7 linked regions of the Homo sapiens genome follow. The protein of the gene in region 4 interacts with the protein of the main gene of each other region in a biochemical or structural test. Each region holds a gene or a part of one and is shown on either strand. Other genes may lie near its edges.

Region 1 (2,790 bases), on a different chromosome or scaffold from region 4:
TGCCACCTGAAACCAAAACCCAGTATATTATTAATACAATGCTTCTGACTTGCTAGTTGTAAAGCTACCTACATAATTAGGAAGAGGCAGGCCTCCCTTTTACTTTTCATTCTATGGCTATACTTATTTATCACTGTCTGATAAAAGCAGAGATAAGCAAACTGCTGCCTGTGGGCCAAATCCAACTCATAGCCTCTATTTGTAAGGTCTGTGAATCCAAAATGGTTTATTTATCTTTAATTAGAAAGAAAAAATATCATACAAAAAACATTCCGTGAAGCATGAGTAGCATGTAAAATTCAAACTTCAGTATCCATAAGGAAAGTTTTATTAGAACACAGGCATGCCCATTTGTCTATACCTATTATGCTCCAAGAGCAGGCAGTGTTAGGTAGTTTTGACAAGGACTTCATGGGTCCACAGAGCCCAACATTTACTATCTGATCTTTCCTGCCTGAGACCATCTAGAGCAGGCTCTTCAGCACTGGGCGCCAACTATGAGCAGACAATTACCAGAACATTCATGTCTAAGGTAGAAAACTAAAGCCAGGTGCAGTAATCCCAGCACTTTGGGAGGCTGAGACAGGCAGATCACCTGAGGTCAGGAGTTCGAGACCAGCCTGGCCAACACGGTGAAACCTCATCTCTACTAAAAGTACAAAAATTAGACAAGCGTGGTGGCGGGTGTCTGTATCCCAGCTACTCAGGAGGCTGAGGCAGGAGAATTGCCTGAACCCAGGAGGCGGAGGTTGCAGTGAGCTGAGATCAAGTCACTGCACTCCAGCCTGGGCGACAGACCGAGAGGCTCCATTTCAAAAAAGAAAATAAAGAAATAGAATAAAAAATAAGGTAGAAAACTAAAGAGGGCAAAGAGGAAAAGAAAAAGGTAACCTACAAAGACAGGAAAATAAAAATGGGAAAAAAAAAAGAGCTTGCACGTGCTTCCCTCTCATTTCTTTTTTTGGTAACACCTTGACTGGTGATACTCATCAAAATGGACAGTTCTCCCTTTCCAATTCTAATATTCTGTGCTTAAAGAATGAGCATGAATAATAGAAAAGAAACTCAATTTCATTCGAAATATTTACTAAACACCTATTAGGTGTCAGGTACTATAATGCATGCTGTTTCTAATAAATTTTTTGTTTGTTTTTAAAAAGAGATAGGGTTTTCCTATGTTGCCTGGGCTGGCTTCAACGCTCCTTGCTCTCCACTCAACTTCTCTAGTAGCTAGGACTACAAGCACACTCTGTGGTGCCTAGCTGTTTGTAACAAATTTTAATCTACATAATTAAGAAGTATAATGCTTGAATATAGTTTCATCAATTTTTTTTTTTTTTTTGAGACGGAGTCTCGCTCTGTCGCCCAGGCTGGAGTGCAGTGGCGCTATCTCGGCTCACTGCAAGCTCTGCCTCCCAGGTTTACGCCGTTCTCCTGCCTCAGCCTCCCGAGTAGCTGGGACTACAGGCACCCGCCACCGCGCCCGGCTAATTTTTTGTATTTTTAGTAGAGACGGGGTTTCACCATGTTAGCCAGGATGGTCTCGATCTCTTGACCTCGTGATCCACCCGCCTCGGCCTCCCAAAGTGCTGGGATTACAGGCGTGAGCCACAGCGCCCGGCCAGTTTTTTTCTGAAATATAAAAAGCAAATTTAAGAACATGTCAACCCAGGCCTGGTGGCTCACGTCTGTAATCTCAGCACTTTGGGAGGTCGAGGTAGGAGGATCATTTGAAGCCAGAAGTTCAAGATCAGCCTGGGCAACGTGGCGAGGCCCTCTCTCTACACACACAAAAAGGCAAAAATTAGCTAGGCATAGTGGTGCGTGCCTGTAGTCCCAGGAACTCAGGAGTCTGAGGTGGGAGGATCACCAGAGCCCAGGGAGGTAAAAGCTGCAGTGAGCCGTGATTGCACCACTGCACTCCAGCCTGGGAGTGAGACATTGCCTCCCTCACCCCATCCCCTCCCCCTAAAAAAGAACAGAACATGTCAAAGAGAAGCCAGTACAACATATCAAATATTAAGAATATAGTTAAGAGTTTCAAGAAAGAATGCTCATACCTATCATTCACCAAACTCTAATAAGCCTATTATATAATAAGATGCCACAATAAACACTGTGTTACTTAGATTCAAATACAGACATCTCACCAATCTCCTTTGATTTTTGATTCTGAAACTGAGTGTCCTCAGGCTCATATTCTAGCTACTGAGCCCATCTGGCCTTAAGGGTAAGCCACATCGTGCTTAAAAGACACAGCCAAAGAGAGAATGAACAAACAGAAAAGAGATAGAAGAGACTTATCCCAAATCAGGTGATTTGTTTTCAATTTTATCACCACAAAATTTTCTTGCATTTTTCTCAAAGTTTCTCTTATTTTATAAACACCTTAAAATAACTGTTCACAGTATTTACTTGACAAGTTTTACTTCTGTTCTTATAGCCGTTAACACAGCATACTTAAACTAAATAAAACCTTTTAAATTATGTTTCATCTTTATTGCTACTCAACAGACGTTTTTGGCTTTTGCAGTACGCAAGGGTCTTGGTCATAATTACCAATGATCACTCTGTAGAGGACTGTAAATGAAATCCACGTATTTGAATATTTGAATTTGGAGGTGCTTAGTTTTTAGATAAAGACTAAAGCCAACTGTATGTACTTTTGGATCCGCTCAATTGCTTCCTTTTAGTACTCTGTTATGACAATGTATTTCCAATTAAGCCCTAGATTCAGAGAAACTTTAATGCACTGATCAATATTCACATTCCTGAAGAAACAGGTGCCTA
Region 2 (3,500 bases), on a different chromosome or scaffold from region 4:
TTTCTTTCCCTCCAACATAAGACTGACGCATTAAGGACACCATGGCCTTACCTTGTAGGTGCAGTGGCTGCTGGCTGCTGCCCATAGGCTGGATAAGCAGGCTGAGTGCCATATGCAGACTGAGCTGCATAGGAGGCCTGGGTGGTGGTGACTGTAGCAGTGGTGGTATCATAAGCACCAGTGCCATACCCCTGGACAGGCTGGCTGTATGCCTGGGGGGCAGTTGGAGTAGTATAACCTAGAACAAAGGAGAGCTGCATCAGATTTCAGGTCCCCTCAGAGATCTGCCTAGACACTCATTATCAGAACAATTTGTAAACCACTTACTTTAAACCATCAGGATATTGAATCCCTTTAAATATTCCCCCTTCCGCAAGAGTAGCAACAAACTGGTATTTAAAGCCTAAGTTCTCTGAATGTACCTAGTTTTTGGTAAAGTAACTGTCTCATTTGCTCTAAAACCACACCTAACAGAAATGGCATGTCATGCTACAGAAAACAGGGTTCCTTCTGCCCCCTCTTGAATGCTGTGAATAGGAGACAAGTCTGTTTTTGCCAAGTCTGTACTGATTTTGCTAGCAGGTCGTCTTAACAAGTTTGTAAACAAACTTACCCCAAAATACCCTCAAGCAGGAATAAAACATCCCAGAAGAAAAGGTAAAAGGCAAATGACATAGCATTTTAAAATAATTAGAAAATGATCCAGGTACTAGTTCTAGCACTAAAACCTGTAATTTGGGTAGTAATTAATTTAATCACTTTCTTTTGGTCCCAAGCACTAACATCATGTGAAGCACAAGCTTAATTACTTGAGCACATGATTAATAAAAATAAGCTATAAATTATAGTTGCTTAACACAGTTTATCCTTTTTTTGTAAATTATTTAAAATTAAACTTCGATATTGCTCCAAACAAACATTTAAAAGGTAATGTTTTCACATCATAAAGCAGATTCCTGCCTCGTTATCAAGTTACTCAGCTCCATTCCTCTTACTTACCTACCACAAGCAAAAGGCCTTTTTCCTGCTCAGCAATATTGGAGGTAAACCCTAGAGTCTCTCCTCCCCTTCAGTATTTCACTAACCAGGTGTCAGAAAAAACCTGGTTTCACAGGTATGCTGCAAAGCAAGATGCATTCTATCCCTAGCTCCTGCCTCTGCCAGACCAGGCAGGATCCATGCCTTTCCCTTCGGGACTTCGGCGTGGAGCATGACCAAAACCACGAAAGTCTGCAGCTCCTAACTAGAGTACCTTTCCTGTAGGAGGTGTTACAACCATTCCTGGTGCTGGACTCTTCTTCCTCATGGTCAATGGGTACAATTAAGCCATGCAATAAAAAGTTTGGTTTACACTTTGGGAGGCTGAGGTGGGAGGACTGCTTGAGTTTAGGAGTTAGAGACCACCCTGGGCAATATAGTGAGACCTCGCCTCTACAAAAAATAAACAAACTTAGCTGGGCATGGTGGCGTGAGCCTTCAGTCCCAGCTACTTGGGAGGCTGAGGTGGGTGGACTGCTTGAGGCTGGGAGGTCAAGGCTGCAGTAAGATCCAGCCTAGGCAACAGAGACCCTATCTTAAAAAAACAAAACAAAACAAAACTTTGGTCTAGGTGCTGGCATTTATATCCAAAAAAAAAGTCTACATCTCACTAAAGAAAAAGCTTCCATATTTAAAATAAATCCTGAATCAAGACTGCCCATTTTAGTTAAGATTTAGGGCCTTAAAGTGTCCTCATGTACTGGCCAGAAACAAGTATCAGCTTCCTTTTGTACAATCACCATTTGTAGCACAGAATATAATAATACTCTTTCTTCTCTACCTCAAATATTAAAAGGAAATTCTGAAATTATACACAGAGATAGTAATGTCCTTGTCAAAACTGCTGAGTTAAAATGTGTATGAAAGTATACATAGTTCCAGAAAACAGGAAGCCCCAAGCAATAAAAGTTTTTGAGTTGGCATGTTGTTCATCTGAACTGCTTAAGTTTTTGCAGAGTCCTAAGGTCAACCACATAAGGCATTCATTTATTTAAATTAGAATCTAATACCATCTACCCTACCGTTCATATACCGATTACACCCCACTACATGACACGTCTATAAGATTTACAAGGAGGGCAATTAAAAAAACAAAAAACTAAAAGTGATCAGGGCAATAACTCATGTCATAAAACTATGCAGCAACAGTTAGGGCCTTGTCATGCTAAAGATTACAGCAATAGACACTGGGTTAATAAATAACCTTTTAATTAATCTGTAGTACCCACAAAAGCAGCCAAGCAAAATGAACAAAAATCAACAGAGCAAAATGATTTAATGACCAAAAAAAAAACAAAAAAACAAAAAAACAAAAGACCAGTGGCAAAAAAAGAAAACACACCTACTATGTGCTGACAACTTGAAGGAAAAAGGTGGTAAGAAATATTACACAAACCAAAACTTTTGTTCAACGTAAAAATTAAGAAGTTTTTAAGAATTCCATTGAATTGAGGTTTATATAACCCCTTTCTTCTGAAGTTTAATTTTTAAAAATCCTAGAAGAGAACAGTGTATTTCTATGTATTCCCTCCAATGACTATCCGATAACTTTCATGTGTAAAGGCAGTATGAGGTAAGGAAAAATGCAGCATGTGTGCTTGAACCCACGCACTACCAATTAGGCTCCTGCTAAGTTTTGTTCACACAGTTTGCTCATCAGGCTTAATTTTGGTGTTTTTATACCCCAAAAGTTCTTGGGAGGATTAAGGGAGACAAGAAGGCCACTCTATAAACTGTGAATTTTATACAAACATTATTATTACTAAGTGCAATCTCCAGCTCATCAAAGCTACTAGTCTCTAAACTAGAATGACCTGTACTTTTTAGGCCCACAGTCATGATGGGGATTTCTCAACCAACGACAATGTGATACATGGCTCTAGAGAACCATTAATTTGCCTATAAATCACTCCGTCTCATTCCTGTAAAATGATCTAAGGATTCGGAAGGCTAGATCTAGGCCACATTAACTTTCACATCATGCTTGTTTTAAAAAATGTAATGGCTTTAATACATGAAGTTTATCTCACAATTTCAAAATTCTATGCTAAAAAATCCAAACTGCATAACCTTAGTTCCAGCTCTTCCCACAGCTGCAATTAACACCACTAGAAAGTTTAGATAAACATTTCCCATCCTATTTGAGAAACACCCTAGAAGAGGTTAGGAATTACTTCCCATCAAAATCAGGACACTGGTACTCAATGAGATAAATTACAGACAGGTTTTTCCCCTTAACTGGACTATATATAATTTGGAGAACTAAAGACAGTTTGAAAATAAGAGCTCTGATATCTTTAAGACTTTATTAGAGTCTTTTATAACAGCAATAATAAAAGGGCAGGGGGAGACAGCCTGAAACATTACACAGCACTGAACACAAAAAAATTATCATAGGTTTTTCATGTATCCCACCCAACCTCAGTATCGGAATACAATTTCTTCTAATTCTTAGAATAGTT
Region 3 (3,500 bases), on a different chromosome or scaffold from region 4:
ACCCAGCTAATTTTTGTATTTTTTAGAGAGATGAAGTTCCACCATGTTGCCCAGGCTGGTCTTGAGTTCCTGGGCTAAAAGCAATCCTCCCACCTTGGCCTCCCAAAGTGCTGGGATTACAGGCATGAGCCACCACGCCCAATCCTTTTTTCTTTAATATTTTTTGTCATTCTTTCTTCTTTTTTCTTTCCAGGCAATGTGCCATGGGACTTTTCTTTTTTTTTTTTTTTTTTTTTTTTTTTTTTTCAAGAATTCCAAGGAAAGGCTGGATGTGATGGCTCACATGTGTAATCCCAGCACTTTGGGAGGCCAAGGTTGGAGGACTGCTTGAGACCAGGAGTTTGACAGCGGCCTGGGCAACAGAGACCCAGTCTCTATAAAAAATAATTAAAAAATAATAATTCCAAGAACAATCAAGTGTTTTGTTTTTGAAGAGCTAGAAAGGAACACTCCTTCCTAGGAGAATACATAAGTCCTGTCTGAATAATCCTAAAGAAGATACAGAGTCTCTGACCTAAAAGCTAGCTACAAAAAGTGATCTTTGGAGTGGATTTAGAGTTAGCACAACACTTGCTGATTTTACTTCAATCTACTCCAAAGCATCCATGCTTAGAATTCATATCAAGATAAGGAAGTCAATGAACACAGCCCATACCTCTGAGGATGAAGTCAGCAGGAGAACTATTGTGAACAAAGGATCCCATGTGGCCATTCCCACTCTATGGTGGCCATCTAGCAGCCATGGCACTGGAGTGGGTGAAGTCACCGCAGGAACCATGAGACTACAGATAGCTAGCTACTCACCCAAGAAAGACCGGACAGTGGTGATAGAATCTCTGTGGCCATTCCTCAGGGGCGGTGGAGGAGGAGGGGGTGGCCCAGCTGGCGTCCTTGAGGGTGGAGGTGGGGGCTTTCCTCGGCTCGGGGGTTCTGACCCATGCATTCGGTATGGTGGTGGGGGAGGGGGAGCATCCCTGGCACCATTTCGGATCACAGGTGGTGGGGGTGGAGGAGCTGCAATTAAAATCCAAAGTAGTTAGGTTTGGATGTGGAGACGGCAAGGGGTAGAATGACTTGAAACACATGAGCTAAAAGAGTAACACACCCCACAGAGGCTCACAGTGCCTGGTTCCCCTTTGTCCTTATTACTTGAACAGCATCACCATTCTTCCAGATACCAACATTCAGAATAAATGTATGGCCTTTTTACATTTCCTACCAGTCAGTCAGAACCCTATCTGTTCTTGATTTTTTTCCTGCTTTTCCATGCCTTCCTCCACAATTCTAATTCAGGTCTTCCTTATATTTAGCCTGTTCTCTACTGCAAAAGCCTTCCGAATGTTCTCCTTGCTTTGTCTCTTACCCCTCCAAATTCATTTTGCATAACACCAACTCACCAACCTCCCTAAAAACTTGATCCAGTTTTTTCAAAGGCTTTGCACTGCCTAAATCATAAAGTCTCAAACTGTGGCTGGGTGTGATGGCTCACGTCTATAATCCTAGCACTTTGGGAGGCCGAGGCGGGAGGATTGCCTGAGCTCAGCAGTTGGAGACCAGCCTGGGCAACATGATGAAACTCCATCTCTACTAAAAATACAAAAAATTAGCCCGGTGTGGTGGCGTGTGCCTGTAGTCCCAGCTCCTCAGGAGGCTGAGGCACAAGAATCACTTGAACCTGGGAGGTGGAGGTTGCAGTGAGCCCAGATTGTGCCACTGCACTCCAGCCTGGGCAACAGAGAGAGACTCCATCTCAAATACATAAATAAGTAAAAAAATAAAGTCTCAAAGCCTTTGCTTACATAGTAACCTACCACACCAATCAGCTTGAGCTTGGCTTCTCCTCTTCCCTTCTTATTGCTAGGCTAGGTTAGGAGCCCTCCTCTGCACTTCCACTGCAGCTTGTGCATACCTACCACTTGAATAGACTATTATAATTATTTATTCTGTGTGCTCTTTCCCCAGTATACTGTGTACCCCTTGATGTCAGAGCAGTTCCTCCTTCTGGGTTCCCAAGTTCAGCCAAATGTACAGCACACAGCAGGTGCTCAATCAATGTTTGCTGAATAAACCAAATTATATGCTTTGCTCTTGTGACTCCCCTCACAATATTCTGATATCCCCCCTTCCCTTACTACCAAATCCTCCCTACCCTTCAAGGTTCAATCCAAGTCCCATCTTCTCAAGGCTTTCCCAAAGCAATCCATTTTCTTCTGAGTCCCTCCACCTCTGCTCTCCCACAGCATATACAGGCTATGTCACTTACTCTAATATCAATGAGCGATTTTCAAAATATATACAGCAGATTCATTGTGGGAAGTTACATATGTCCAGTAACAGTCTCATTGCTCAAACACTGCAAACACCTCTTTTGGAATTGCCTCCAAAGCAAGTTTATCAGTCAGAGCTGTAAACACTATTATATGATGGTCACATTTCATTTCTGAGGTCGCCCCACCACCATCACCAATGAAAATATTCATACCTATGCCAGGCACGGTGGCTCACGCCTGTAATCCCAGCACTTTGGGAGGCCGAGGCGGGAGGATCACCTGAGGTCGGGAGTTCGAGACCAGCCTGATCAACATGGAGAAACCCAGTCTCTATTAAAATACAAAAATTAGCCAGATGTGGTGGTGCATGCCTGTAATCCCAGCTACTCGGAAGGCTGAGGCAGGAGAATTGCTTGAACCCAAGAGGCGGAGGTTGCGGTGATCCAAGATCGTGCCATTGCACTCCAGCCTGGGCAACAAGAACAAAACTCTGCCTCAAAAAAAAAAAAAAGAAAATGTTCATACCTATGTCTGAATCTGCTTTTTGGTGATTCCAAAAATCAAATTCACTCTTAAAAGATGAAAATTTGCCACCAAGTAGAAGGTAACGTCAAAAGCATGTGTCAAGAAATGGCAATATGACTGGAATATAATAGATTCTAACGTGTTTGTCTTACTCCTATGCTCTGTATTAACTAACAATAATAGCAGCTACCATTTATTGGGTATCTATTATGTTCCAGGCATTTTCGGTGTATTAAATCTTTAAAAAGTCTTATAGCCACACATGCGAAGTATGTAATATTATCCCCATTTCACAAATGAGAAAACTGGGACTCAGGTTATTTGTTTAAGGTCACAGATCAAATAAAAATAGGCAAGGCACATGTCTGCTCTTTCTACTCTCCCACACTGCTTTTCGTAACTCCCAGTATTCTGCATAGTATCTTCCCAACCAGATTTACAATCCAGTGGCTTGGAAGTGCATCTTTTGGTATCTAGGCCATGTTCAATTTTTTTTTTTTTTTAAGAGACAGGGTCTCACTCTGTCACCCAGGTTAAAGCGCAGTGGTGGAATCATAGCTCAGTGCAGCTTCAAACTCCTGGGCTCAAGCAATGCTCCCGCCTCAGCAAAGGGCTGGGATTATAGGCATGTGCCACAGCACGTGGCCCAATAAATAGTTGTGACCTAAATAGTATGTGAAGAGACTACTCAGCTTAACAGACAAA
Region 4 (3,500 bases):
CACAAAGGAGCAGAAAAACAGCTTTTCTAGATCAGTACACTAAACCCAGCCAAGAATCTGCAAAAATGCTACTACACCGCTTCACAAGCAACACAGTCCCTTCACTACTCATTGGGTTGCACGATGTCTCTCTTCTACCCTGTTATGGCCTGTGGACACATACTCACTAGGCATCATTGTTGGTTTTAAACCAGGGATTTTTTTTTTTTAATCTCAAAAAACCTAGTAATAACAAGGCAATCAGTGGTTAAACTGAACTTTACATATAGGGGGCAGTTTGGAAAACACATACCACAAGCATTTCTCAAGTCGAAAATATGTGAATTTGCTGCTGCTCCTTTGACGGTTCCTGAAAATTCAGAGTACAAGTCCTAAAATAAAAATTTTAAGCTACCAGCATTCTCTGATACTAGACAGAAAATCAGAGTAACGCTACAGCCCACAATTCTACAGGGTGTAAAAAGTACGCTCACTGCCTGGACATCTTTATTGATGGCCTGGAGTCCTCCCTTTTAGAAGACAAGTTTCTGGGATAACCACTTAGCTTCATTGGTTAGGGAAGAGAAGAATTCGACTCTCAGGTAAGTTGAGAAGAGACTCCTCTTAAAATGCCATTTCTCCACTAATTTATCAAAATAAAAACAAAACAAAAGGCTCTTGGCTACTTTGCCTAGTATTAGATAGGGTTTTGAAGAAACTAACATGAACACCCTTTCATCAGTAAAGACTAAAAACCACCTGGAAAATATATATATATATATATATATTATATTATATATATATATATATATATATATATATATATATATATATATATATATATATATATATATATATATCACTGCTGTTTTTTTGGTGTTGTTTTTTGTTTTTTTTTTTTTTTTATCTAAAAGTGCCCAGGTGGGCTTAAGGCTGCCAGACTGCACGCACATCTACAGCAACAAGGGCTTCTATTCCATCTACAACTTGGATCGGGGGAAAAGGGAGATGTAGGAGAGGAAGGAAAAAAGAGGGGAAAAATATACCACCAACCCTCCCCCACAAAAAAAGGGAAAAAAAAAATCCCACCACAGGGAGATCTATGTGCCAAGCATAATGGAAGAGTGTGCTCCCCAAACAGATGGTTTTGCACAGGCTAATGTTCTGCTGGTTTTCCTTAGAGACCTATTTTGAAAAAGTTTAAAAAGACAGGAGATTTCAAAATAATTCAATCCTGGCAGAAATTCAAACTCCAAAACTAGGAGCAAAATCATCCTTCACTGAATTAATTCCTTTTCTCTTTCTCTTTTCTTAAACATTTTATTCATTTTATAGAGAGATTTCTTTTTTGTTTGCTTTTGTTCCAATCATTAGGAGAGTGGTTGAGGAGTACTGAATCCATCACTACTTTGATGACACAGGTAATATTCCAGATTCACATTTCCAGGTACCAAGAGTTCCCTCTAAATGGCACAATCAAGTCAGCCTTCGTTTACATTTCCTTCTACTGAACACAGCAATGCCCATTGGTATCTCTGAAGCGTAATCGCATCTTAGGTCGGTATTTCTCCAAATAAAGCAGCTGTTTGGAATTGAACGCTCCCCTTCTTTTTCTGAAAATACAAGAATGGCAAACTTTATCATGTAAAAAAAGAGCTGTCTGATTCACTGAAATGCATTATTTACATCCTAAAGCCTTTCTAATTCCACACAGCTGAAAACCAGCATATTTCCCATACTACAACAATTCTTAAAGAGCTAAGTTGCAACATGAACTTTCTAAGCCCTCCTAGAAGGAATAGAAAAATTTTTCTTGCTGACTGTCATTATAGTCTATTAACCATTTAATAAAGATCAGAATAGTTTCTACTTTCGTTTTCTTTTTTTAAAGGAAGGGTTGAAAGGGAAAGGGCAAGACAAAAATTGTCAAAGAATTCTGGATAACAAAATAGCATGATTCGTTATTCCAGATCAATGTCAAGATCCTGTCTGTGCACTACCATCCTGATTTTGTCCCTGAATAGATCACTTAAGAGTCCCAGGTGAGGCCAGGCGTGGTGGCTCACGCCTGTAATCCCAGCACTTTGGGAGGCCGAGGTGGGCGGATCACGAGATCAGGAGATTGAGATCATCCTGGCCAACATGGTGAAACCCCGTCTACTAAAAATACAAAAATTAGCTGGGCGTGGTGGTGCGTGCCTGTAGTCCCAGCTACTTGAGAGGCTGAGGCAGTAGAATCGCTTGAACCCAGGAGGCAGAGGTTGCAGTGAGCCGAGATTGAGCCACTGCACTCCAGCTTGAGCAACAGAGCGAGACTCCATCTCAAAAAAAAAAAAAAGAGTCTCAGGTGATTAACTGCTCCTCTACACATTCTTCTTGCCTCCTCCTAACAGAGAATTATATTTGGAAGGTATTTGGAATCTATTAAAAGGGGCATTTTTGAGATTCCTAGATACTCAAAACAATATACTGGACACAGTCTATAATGTCCAAATTAGAAAACTTTTGAATCTGGAAACCAGCTGTACTGAGTCTCTATCACTTGCTCTAAATTTTTTACATCTTCAAATAATACTTCAAGCCAAAAAAAGCAAATTATCCCATACTATAAATGAATATCCCTTCCATAATTCCTTCCTCATGCATGATCTTGCTTTCTGTGTTTCTGAACACAAAAACTTCATACTCACTGTCTTATAAACTGAACTGCATCTTCGTACTTCATTCCACATTCAATCAAAGCAAGTGCAACCAGCACAGGTGCCCTGCAGAAAGAAACCTGTATGTAAGTATCCATAAGTCTTGGAGTGAAAGGATTTTTAAAAACCTGTAACTGCATATTACCAATGCAACGCATGAGCTTTCTTTTTCCTGTATACTAAAGTAGCTGGTATCTGCCTAATACAGTAAATATATCTCATCATCATTAATTCTATGATTTTTTTTTTTGGCGGGGCAGGGGACAGGGTCTCGCTCTATCACCCAGGCCAGAGTGCAGTGGCACAATCACGGCTCACCGCAGCCTCAACCTCCCAAAGCTCAGGTGATCCTCCTGCCTCAGTTCCTCAAATAGCTCGGACTATAGGTGCCCGCCACCATGCCCAGCTAATTTTTGATTTTTAATAGTTAGTAGAGACGGGGTTTCTCCGTGTTACCCAGTCTGCTCTTGAACTCCTAGGCTCAAGCAATCTGCCTGCCTCCGCCTCCCAAAGTGCTGGGATTACAGGCGTGAACCATAGCGCCCAGCCTGATTATCTACTTTTAGTAAAGCACTAAATTCTAAACCTTAAGAAATCTTTACTCTTTAAAACATCACATTATATATTAAATTCTCTCATCACTAGATATGATCAAAAATCCTTCATTGGCCTTTAGCCATTATCACAGTAAAATAAATGACCAAACATATTACTTATCTCCAATGTGTCAGAATTTTCATTACCAATTGATTTTAATATTTCCTTATCAAATGCTAAAAAGGTGCTAGACGTTTTCAAGAAAATCCTTTTGATGAGCTAGGA
Region 5 (3,500 bases), on a different chromosome or scaffold from region 4:
TAATTGATTCCTAACTGATTCAGACACAGAAGGGTGAATTCTGGTAACCTCTTAGCTACCTAGGTCTCTGTTTTAAAAGAGAATTGTTAAATCTCTGCTTAAAACGGTAGAATTCAGATATTTGGGGCTATTAATTTAGAGCTAAATTTTCAATACTGCCTTCCTTCCTGGTCTTAATCATTTTTGCTATCTAAGTATTAATTATAAATAACATCCATTAGTAACATTCACGCTCACTGGCAACAATTTTAAAAAAGAAAAATTTTAAATGGAGGCTTACAGTTGTGGTAAATTTGGTCTAACAAAGGGATCATTCTCTGCTCCATTGACTGCTTTGTTTTTCCTTTGTTTTGGTTCAGAATTGGTAGAGGGTGCCTGAGAATTATTAGCTGTGGGAGGTTTGCGTTTGGCTAGAAGTTTCCTTTGCCTTTCAATATCTTCCCTTTGCTGATTCACCCATTCTTGTTGCCTGTGTAAAAATAAACAAATAAAACCATATTAACCTTCCATTACTTTTCAAGGCTAAACTTGGAAAAAATGCATAAAAAACATGAAAAACCATAAAATATACATTCGTAACCTTTTGGTTCCACTCTTGTGAACCAATTTGTACTTATCCTTCAGGTCTCATTTGAAAGAATTTTTTTAAGTGAGGTATTCTCTAAACCCCTAGATTAGGGAAAGATGTGTTGCCATATATAATTTCATGGGATCTTCTATCTCCCCACCTCACTCTTTCTAATAAATATTATTCCTATAGATACTTTATCAGAAAGTGTCCGGTTAGATGACATCACTCCCTAAGAACACAGATGGTGTCTATTTATACAGTATTTATACTGTTGTATCCCTAGTACCTAGTGTAGTGATCATCACTTACCTTTGCTCAGTAAATGTTTCTTGAATGAAATGAGATAAAACAATACCCCAAACTATTAAAGTATGGGGTATATGTTACACATGCATCTCACCACAGTATTTGCAAACAAATTTACAAAAGGCAAATATGAATTTAATGTGAAGAGAGTTATTTTCTAAATCTACTTTTGTTAAAAAAAATTGGTAATGGGAAGTTGGTGTTTTGAAATGAGACAAATTAACCTTAATATAAGAAATTTATGAGAAAAATTTTTTTGATAATTTAAGGGGAAAAAGACAAGAAAATAGCAAGAAAAATTAGCATGGCTCTGAAAAATGGGAAAGTAACAAAAATAAAATCAATGCTTCCCATTCAAGAAACTGAAACAATTTTGCAAATAGCTCCCTAATTCTAAAAACGAATAGATACCATGTCTATTATTAAAATGTAGATTAGATATTTTAGCAGTTTGAGCAGAGCATAAAGTAGTTAACAGTGAAGCTTTTTAAAACCAACTTATCATACAACACCTTAAGCTTATTCTAACAGTAACCATGTTCTCTTTCAGGTCACCTCACTATGCCAATAAAAAATTTTCAAATCCTACATGGTTACAATACTTAGAGCAAGTCAAATATTTCATGCCCTCCTCTCCCCAACCACTGACATCAACTAAAGGGCTCCTACTTTGCTAATGCAGAATTGACCTTACACACATCCCCTTCCCTATGGTTTTAGTGATAAAGTAGCAGAATATGATAGGAGTGAAAAAAATCAAGAAGAATCTAGGTAGAAGATTGAAAGGGTAGAGAAAAATCTCAAGAATAGCAAAGTGAGAACAAGACTTTAATCCGGTTTTCATTTAGAAGCAGGAATAAATTTCAATTTTTAATAAGTAAATCTTAAGGCTATTTTAGGGCACAATCAAGATGGTATAAATGCAAATAAGCAATAATAATCCTAATGATTAAAATATTAATGGAAAGTAAAGAATTACTGGAATAGATATTAATAGCTGATTACTCAGGGATGACTATACAGTTTAGAGATTAATATTATTACTTTTATTTATTTCTCTTCTCATCTTCTAACCACTCTGGATTATATCACCAATTATAAACGGCTTGATATACACACAGTAGGTCCTCAATAAATGCTTATTAGTGAAAGTCAGGACATACAAGTAATTATTTTCTTTTTTGACATTATTTTTTGAGACAGACTCTCACTCTGTCGCCCAGGCTGGAGTGCAGTGGCATGATCTCGGCTCACTGCAGCCTCCACCTCCCAGGTTCAAGCAATTCTCGTGCCTCAGCCTCCCGAGTAGCTGGGATTACAGGCGCCCACCACCATGCCTGGCTAATTTTTGTATTTTCAGTAGAGACAGGGTTTCACCCTGCTGGCCAGGTTGGTATCAAACTCTCAACCTCAGGTGATCCTCCCAACTCGGCCTCCCAAAGTGCTGGGATTACAGGCGTGAGCCACTGCACCTGTGGCCTCTTTTCTGACAGTTAAGAGGAGAAATTGGAACTACTAGTAGAATTTATATTTCAGAACATTCATATTAATTATATAACTGTCTCTTTTATTCATTGCAGGACAATTGCCGGTCTGGGTTTAGTAGCAGAGCCTCTTGCTCATAAACACTAAAAAATTATCTTCTCCTGCTTTCCACTTTACTGTTGATATGTTAGTTCATGCTTTAATCACCTTTCATCTGGATACCCCTCCATCTTAACTACCAATAACATTCATCCTCTAATAATATTTTCACATTACCATCAGTTATTATTCTACAACTATCACTGTAGATATCATTCCGATCACGTACACTATATGTAAACCTTTAACAAGTCCCATTATCTGCAGAATTGAAACCCAAACTCTCTAATATCACAAGGACATTATCCTTTGTTTCACTGTGGTATAACTAGCACAGATATGTTGAAGAAAAGTTGAATAAATCTGCTGAGAGAGAAGGCCATTCTGTGGCAAGTCCTAGGAGGCAGTGTTTGAACAGCAATGTTGGTGTGATACCATGTGAAAGTAAGTTCTGCCTCTATTTCAAATAACTGGATACTCTGGAAAAGCTGATGTTCATGCTGGCATTACTCCCCATTTTCAGGTTTAAAAAAATTTTCCACCAAAAACGGAGTAGCATATTTAGCACTCCTTAACACATAAACAGCCAATAAATCCTTTTCTACCACCATCTGAACTCAAGAAAATATGGTAACTATAATTCCTCTGTTTAAAAGTTTGATCTGAAAAGTAACAGAAAACCAAACACCGCATGTTCTCATGTATAAGTGGGAGCTAAACATTGGAGACACATGGACATAAAGATGAGAATGATAGAAACTGGGGGCTACAAAGATGAAGGAGGCAGAGACAGGGGCAAGGATTGAAAAACTACTGGGTACTATGCTCACTACCTGAGTGGTGGGTTCAATTGTACCCCGAACCTCAGTATCAAGCAATATACCCCTGTAACAACCTGCATATATATTCCCTGAAACTAAAATAAAAGTTGAAATTAAAATAAATAAATAATAAATAGAGTTTACCTCAGAAACGCTAAAGCCACATGTTCAGTTTAACTGATAAATCAGTTATTATATCTGAGGCAAAAGAGAAGTTT
Region 6 (3,500 bases), on a different chromosome or scaffold from region 4:
CACTGCACTCCAGCCTGGGCGACACGGTGAAACTCCATTTCAAAAAAAAAAAAATAGAACAACACACAGGTAGCCCAGGCAGCTACTGTACACCTGGCCAAGTGACTGTTTGTACCAGGGACAGTGGGCACTAGCTATTCTAAAGAAAATAGGAGTTGGGCGTGGTGGCTCATGCCTGTAATCCCAGAACTTTGGGAGGCCAAGGTGGGTGGATTACGAGGTCAGGAGTTCGAGACCAGCCTGGCCAATATGGTGAAACCTCATCTCTACTAAAAATACAAAAATTAGCCAGGTGTGGTGGTGCGCGTCTATGGTCTCAGATGCTTGGGAGGCTGAGGCAGGAGAATCACTTGAACCTGGGAGGTGGAGGTTGCAGCGAGCCAAGATTGCACCACTGCACTACAGGCTAGGCGACCGAGCGAGACTCTGTCTCAAAAAAAAAAAGAAAGAAAAGAAAAAGAAAATAGGATATGGAGGCAAAAGCAGATCCATCAGGGCTCTGCTTGGGAGGCTACAATGTGGTCACTGCAAGCTTCACCTGCTGAGGATCTGCCACAACAGAGTGAGGAGGCACAACGAAAGGAAGCAGCATCAACTCCGTGAACACCACTTTACGTTTTAAGGACAAGCAGGGCCTCCCACGATGGGCAACTCTCAGGAGTCCCTCCAGGCAAACACTCACTACATGCCACTTGCTATGCCTGGAGCAACCCAGACTCCTTGATGGACATCCCAGCTGGGTCCCTTCAGGAGGAAGCCTTCATCTAGACTGGCGTTTAGGGACTCCCCAAGACCTGCCCTTTCTGAAAGAACACCCCAACTCATTTCCATCCCCAGAAGGGATGAGATCATGGTTGACAAAAGAAATTTTAAGGAGAGAGAGAGAGAGAGAGAGAGAGAGAGAGAGAGAGAGAGATCCTTAAAATTTATATATTTATTATTATTAAATATATACATATATATGTAAAAATAAGATATATGTACATATATATTTTTGAGATAGAGTCTTGCTCTGTCCTCCAGGCTGGAGTGTAATGGTGTGATCACAGCTCACTGCATCCTCGACTTCTTGGGTTCAAGTGACTCTTCTGCCTCAGCCTCCGGAGTGGCTGGGACAACAGGCATGTGCCACCATGCCCAGCTAATTTTTTCTATTTTTGTAGAGATAGGGTTTTACTATGTTGCCCAGGCTGGTCTCAAACTCCTGGGGGCTCAAGCCTCCCATCTCAGCCTCTCAGAGTGCTGAGATTATAGGCATGAGCCACTGCACCTGGCCCCAAGGACATAATTTTTAAAAGAAAAAAGGACATGGTCACAGTATGTGATATTTATGGACCAAAAATAGAAAACAATTTAACACTCAACTTTAACGTAATAGTTAATCAGATTACACCTACCTACTCGGTGACATATCATGTAAGCATATAAAAAGAATTTACTATGCCTTATGTGGCACAAGGAAATGCTTCTAACATAAAATAAAGCAGGACCAGCCAGGCGCAGTGGCTCACACCTGTAATCCTTTTGGGAAGTGGGGCAGGCAGATCGCTTGAGCCCAGGAGTTTGAGACCAGCCTGGGCAACATAGCAAAACCCCATCTCTAGAAAAAATACAAAAAATAGCTGGGCATGGTAGGGCATGCCTGTAGTCCCAATTATGCAGGAGGCTGAGGTGGGAGGGCTATCTGTGCCCAGGAGGTGGAGGTTGCAGTGAGCTGAAATTGTGCCACTGTGCTCCAGCCTGGGGGACAGAGTGAGATCATATCTTAAAAAAATAAAATAAAATAAGAGCAGTACCCACAATTCTATCCACCTATAAATTATTAAACTACACAAAATCAGTAAGCTGATAAAAATTAAACATTAATATGGTAGGATCTTGGTTGACTGTTTTTCAAAATGTTATTTAAATGTTATATTGTTCTTGCAATTCAAGCCAGAAGGAAAAATAAATCCATCTCTATTCTTTCACAATTGTGTATGTAAAAAAATCTCAAACAAATCTACAAAAGAGCTACTAGAATAAGTGAGCTTAGCAAGGTTTATTACAAGGTCAATCTGTAAGTCAAATTTCAAATATTACAAGGTAAACCTACAAATCAAATAGCAATCAAATTTCTATATATCAGCAATGAATGGAAAGTTTTTAAAAGTACCATTTCCTATAGCACTAAAAGCATGAAAAACTTGGCGTAAATCTAACAAAGTATGTGTAGGATCTGTGTTGAAAACTACAAAACACTACATCAGTGAAGTGACATACTGCACTCATGAATCAGAAGACTTGATATTGTTAAGATGTCAATTTTCTCAAACTAATCTATAGATTCTACAGATTTGATAGATCTATAGATCCAAGGCTCTCTCACTCAAAATCTCAGCATGAATTTTTTAAAAAACTTCATAAACTGATTCTAAAATTTATATGCAAAAGCAAAGAAACTAACAATTTTGGAAAAAAGAACAAACCTGGAGGACTCATATTTCAAGATTACTATTAACCAGTAATCAAGACTGCATTGCTGGGCGAGGCGCAGTGGCTAATGCCTGTAATTCCAACACTTTGGGAGGCCGAGGCAGGTGGATCATGTGAGGTCGGGAGTTTGAGACCAGCCTGGCCAACATGGTGAAACCAGTCTCTACTAAAAATACAAAAAGACCGTGCTGCTGAACGAAATTTAGATGTACAGACCAATGGAACAGAATGAGAGTCCAAGAGTCCAGAAATAGACCCACAGTATATGGTCAACTGATTTTCAGTAAAGGTACGAAGGCAATTCAATAGAGAAAATATAGGCCTGGCACAGTGGCTCACACCTGTAATCCTAGCACTTTGGGAGGCCAAGGCGGGTGGATCACCTGAGATGGGGAATTCAAGACCAGCCTGGCCAATGTGGTGAAACCGTCTCTACTAATAATACAAAAATTAGCCAGGCGTGGTGGCACATGCCTGTAATACCAGCTATTTGGGAGGCCAAGGCACAAGAATAGCTTGAATCTGGGAGGTGGAGGTTGTGGTGAGCTGAGATCGCGCCATTGCACTCCAGCCTGGGCAACAAGAGCGAAACTCCATCTCAAAAAAAAAAAAAAAAGAAAGAAAGAAAGAAAGAAAGAGGCCGGGCGCGGTGGCTCACGCCTGTAATCCCAACACTTTGGGAGGCCGAGGCGGGAGGATCACGAGGTCAGGAGCTCGAGAACATCCTGGCAAATACGGTGAAACCCCGTCTCTACTGAAAATACAAAAAGATTAGCCAGGCGTGGTGGCGGGCAACTGCTCGGGAGGCTGAAGCGGGAGAATGGCATGAACCCAGGAGGCGGAGCTTGCAGTGAGCTGAGATCGCGCCACTGCACTCCAGCCTGGGGGACAGAGTGAGACTCTGTCTCAAAAAAAAAAAAAAAGAAAGAAAAAATGGTTTTGTTTTTGTTTTTGTTTTTTAAACAAATGGTGCTGGAACAATTATATATTTATATGCCATAGAAGAATAAGAAACCTTAACCTAT
Region 7 (3,500 bases), on a different chromosome or scaffold from region 4:
TCTACCTTATTCACTGCTCGATCTTCAGCATCTACAACTGAGCGTGTGACATTCCAGATATCAGCTAAAGTTGCCTAGGGCACAGATGAGTGGACAGCAGAATGGCACCACAGAGTGCATGCCACCAGTGGTGGGCTGGCGTTCCCCTGTGGCACTGGGCCTCATGCACCCTTCTCAGAAAGACACCTGCACAAGGACCAGTGCTGGGAACCGGCCACAGCCTCTGCTGCTTTGAGCCCCCAGGGGCTTGCTTAGCAGGAGCCCTGCTGCCCAAAGATACCAGAGACATAAGAACAAGTCACTTTTCACTTCAGCTCTTCCAACAGTCCAAGGAAAGAGAAAGACAGGGGTGGACTCTGGCCCCACTGAAGGCGCCTGGGGGGTGCCGGGAGCTCTTGAGGGCCTCTCACCTGCCCCATCCCCACAGTTACAGGCCCAGTGTCAGCACTGACACTGCCGGGGCTTCCCTCTGAGAAGAAGGAGGCTGCTTACATGGAGATGCGCTCTCCTCCCAGCTGGAGATGAGATCAGGGAGGACGGAGGCGGAGGCAGACCCACAGAGGCAGCTCCAAGCACCCCAAAGTGAGGTCCTGGAAAACTAACTCTAAATAAATATCAGACTCCTACAAACTCTTTTGCAGAGCAACTTCCAGCCAGGAGACTTCTAGTTTAGCTGGATATTTCCCTCCAACAGCTCTGCAGCTGCCAGCAGGGGTCCCATTTCATGATAAAGAAAATGAAGTTCACTAAAGATTAGAGAACTTGCCAGAGGGATGGACAGAGCTGGAAGGTGAGCCTTGTCCCCTCACAGATCAGGCCACAGTTCGAAAGCTGTTCCCCAATGCTGACCCTCCACATTCCTCTCCCCTGTCCCCTCCCTGAGCCTTGGTCTTCTGCAACTGCTCATGCCTGGGTTGGACTCCACGACAGCAAGAGGGAAGAAGAGACAACAGCAGCACCCTGAGAAACAGTGACACAGCATCGGCTTCCAGCTGAGACAGCGAGCTGACAGTCACGTGCCTCTCACACTCAGAATGGATTCTGATGGAGAGACCACCAGCAACAGCCCGAACACTGACAGTGACGATGGTTGATGAGAGGGGGTGACAGGTGATTTTAATTCCCTCTTTTTCTTCATTGCTCACATTTTCTGCAGTAAGCATCTGCTATTTTTAAAATGAGAAAAACATCAAATGTCCTAACGGCGGCTGCAGTGGCTTTTGAGCGCTGAGGAAGCAGTCTGGGAACTGAAGCCGCTGTGTATCCGCTCTCTGGAGACCTGAGGGGCGGCCCCGACGCCCTCCAGGGCTGAGTACCTACACTCACACACACGGCGGCATTTCCTCACGGTAAAACACGCTCATAACATCAGCCCTGTAAAGCTGCAGGCCATTAAGTCAAATGACACTTGTAAAATGTTTAAAAGCTGCCTGGCACAGAGCCAGGGGCCCCATTTGCCATCATTATTATCATAATCGCTCTGGTATTATTAATGTTATTGTAATAGCCGCATGCTACACACAGAGAATTTCCTGGAGTTTTCCTAGGGCTCACACACCCATTTTTATTTAATTAATTTTATTATTTTAAAAGTTTATTACCAAATCTGCCTTGATCTTGGATCACATAATTCTTAAATGTACCGTCTAGAGCAGGCTAGACGGCTCATCAAAAGGGAACCAAGACCATGCTTGGGAAGGATCTTCTCAGAGCAGAAAGGTGCTGGTGCCCAGGGAAGCACAGGAGAATGACAGGCTTCCATGAGATGGACGCAGACAGTCATTTGGGTAATCGTGGTAGCTGCATTTAAGTGTGTCTCGAGGAAACAAATAAAAATAGGTCAGCTTTCAAGTGGTCATGGGTTTGAGCCAGGCTGTGGATCAGTCTGATGCTGAGATCAGATGAGAACACTTCTGAGCAGACTGAAAACCTCCCAGGGACCTGTTCCTCGACACTGGCCCTCATCGTAGAGCCTGCACGCTCCGTGCCGAAACTCCTGCTCTGCCCCCATGAGAAGGAATGTCCACCACCGGATGACCTTGCAGTTCAGTTCATCAACACATTGAGGGACATGGGAATGTCCCAAAGGTGGATGGTGGTTGTCACCGGCTACAAAGGTGGAGTCTCTACAGAACATTTATTGAAATCACATGCAAGTACCAAGCAATTGCTCAGCACAGATACCAAAACAAAGCCACACCAAATGAACAACAACCCTGACACGTCAAACAACTGTGGCAGTGCGACCTCTCCCTCTCTCTGGCTCTTTCCTATCAGCATTTATTTTTTATTTATTTTTATTTTATTTTATTTTATTTTATTTTTTGAGACGGAGTCTCGCTCGTCACCCAGGCTGGAGTGCAGTGGCATGATCTCGGCTCACTGCAAACTCTGCCTCCCGGGTTCAAGCGATTCTCCTGCCTCAGCCTCCCGAGTAGCTGGGATTACAGGTGCCCGCCACCATGCCCAGCTAATTTTTGTATTTTTAGTAGAGACGGGGTTTCTACATATTGGCCAGGCTGGTCTAGAACTCCTGACCTCAGGTGATCCACCCACCTCGGCCTCCCAAAGTGCTGGGATTACAGACGTGAGCCACCATGCCTGGCCTCCTGTAAGCATTTAAACCTCTCCCGGCTGCCCTGTTTCTCTTCCTGCGTTCCCTTGAGGCTCTCCCAGGTCCACTCCAGGCATGGCCCTGGTGTGCCTTCAGCAGCAGAACCTGGGGGATCCAGAGAAGTCACATTCTTGGGCTCACCAGAGACCTGCCAAATCAGAATCTCTGGGGTGGGCCCAGCAAGTGAGGTTTAAACCAGCTTCCCCATGGGTGGAAAGCTTGCTAAAATGCAGACCCCTTTACAGCAGGTCTGAGCTCCTAATAAGTGCCCCGGTTTGGTGGGGGTCTGCACCCCTCACTCACCCTGACCCTTTGCCCTCTGACCCTGCTACTTCAAAGGTCCCACCAGGGTCCTCATCTTGTGGGTGTCCAGGCAACATCTCACCCTGCAGGTTACTCCCTTTCTGCAAATGTTCCCCTGGTCCCACCCTCTACAGCTGCTCCTCTTGGGTCCTTCCCAGTGATCCACTCCCTGCCCAAGAAGTGTTCAGAAAGGGGACCGGAAAAAGCCCCCAGACATGAATCGTGGGGAGGAGAGAGGGGCATGCACCCCTGCTCTCACCAACTAGGAGCCAACACTGCCCACTCCCAGAGACCAGCGCCTCCTCCCACAGGTGAGGGCTTCCCCTCCCACTCCCCGTCCTGATCACCAGCCCCGGAGGTCCAGCTGCAACTCGTTCACAAAGGTGGCCCCCAGGCATCCTCTCTCACCCCCAAGAACAGCATCTCCATCTTCCTCCTTACTGGGAGGGAGGTTATTCATTATTAGGGGCATCCAACATCCCTCACAATGAGCCTGTGGGGTGATCAGACAGCAATATTGCCACCCAGAGCACCCACACTGGAAATGGCTTAATCTCCACCCCAAGGGTACTGCCTAAGGCTC

The links.
Region 1: the proteins of PTP4A2 (region 4) and DHX15 form a complex in vitro, tested with the Homo sapiens proteins (one large-scale study listed by BioGRID).
Region 2: the proteins of PTP4A2 (region 4) and EWSR1 form a complex in vitro, tested with the Homo sapiens proteins (one large-scale study listed by BioGRID).
Region 3: the proteins of PTP4A2 (region 4) and WIPF2 form a complex in vitro, tested with the Homo sapiens proteins (one large-scale study listed by BioGRID).
Region 5: the proteins of PTP4A2 (region 4) and TLK1 form a complex in vitro, tested with the Homo sapiens proteins (one large-scale study listed by BioGRID).
Region 6: the proteins of PTP4A2 (region 4) and AKAP8L form a complex in vitro, tested with the Homo sapiens proteins (one large-scale study listed by BioGRID).
Region 7: the proteins of PTP4A2 (region 4) and CARS1 form a complex in vitro, tested with the Homo sapiens proteins (one large-scale study listed by BioGRID).

The regions. Positions count from the first base shown.
Region 1 is NC_000004.12:24,529,765-24,532,554, forward strand, and holds part of DHX15 (ATP-dependent RNA helicase DHX15), read right to left. Parts: intron 7-2,790; coding exon 1-6.
Region 2 is NC_000022.11:29,274,768-29,278,267, reverse strand, and holds part of EWSR1 (RNA-binding protein EWS), read right to left. Parts: intron 239-3,500; coding exon 52-238; intron 1-51. UniProt on the Homo sapiens protein: Binds to ssRNA containing the consensus sequence 5'-AGGUAA-3'. Might normally function as a transcriptional repressor. EWS-fusion-proteins (EFPS) may play a role in the tumorigenic process.
Region 3 is NC_000017.11:40,271,304-40,274,803, reverse strand, and holds part of WIPF2 (WAS/WASL-interacting protein family member 2), read right to left. Parts: intron 1,015-3,500; coding exon 805-1,014; intron 1-804. UniProt on the Homo sapiens protein: Plays an active role in the formation of cell surface protrusions downstream of activated PDGFB receptors. Plays an important role in actin-microspike formation through cooperation with WASL.
Region 4 is NC_000001.11:31,907,369-31,910,868, forward strand, and holds part of PTP4A2 (protein tyrosine phosphatase type IVA 2), read right to left. Parts: intron 2,745-3,500; coding exon 2,670-2,744; intron 1,593-2,669; coding exon 1,484-1,592; 3' UTR 1-1,483.
Region 5 is NC_000002.12:171,045,894-171,049,393, forward strand, and holds part of TLK1 (serine/threonine-protein kinase tousled-like 1), read right to left. Parts: intron 470-3,500; coding exon 281-469; intron 1-280. UniProt on the Homo sapiens protein: Rapidly and transiently inhibited by phosphorylation following the generation of DNA double-stranded breaks during S-phase. This is cell cycle checkpoint and ATM-pathway dependent and appears to regulate processes involved in chromatin assembly.
Region 6 is NC_000019.10:15,405,489-15,408,988, forward strand, and holds part of AKAP8L (A-kinase anchor protein 8-like), read right to left. Parts: intron 1-3,500. UniProt on the Homo sapiens protein: Could play a role in constitutive transport element (CTE)-mediated gene expression by association with DHX9. Increases CTE-dependent nuclear unspliced mRNA export.
Region 7 is NC_000011.10:3,050,924-3,054,423, forward strand, and holds part of CARS1 (cysteine--tRNA ligase, cytoplasmic), read right to left. Parts: intron 1-3,500. UniProt on the Homo sapiens protein: Catalyzes the ATP-dependent ligation of cysteine to tRNA(Cys).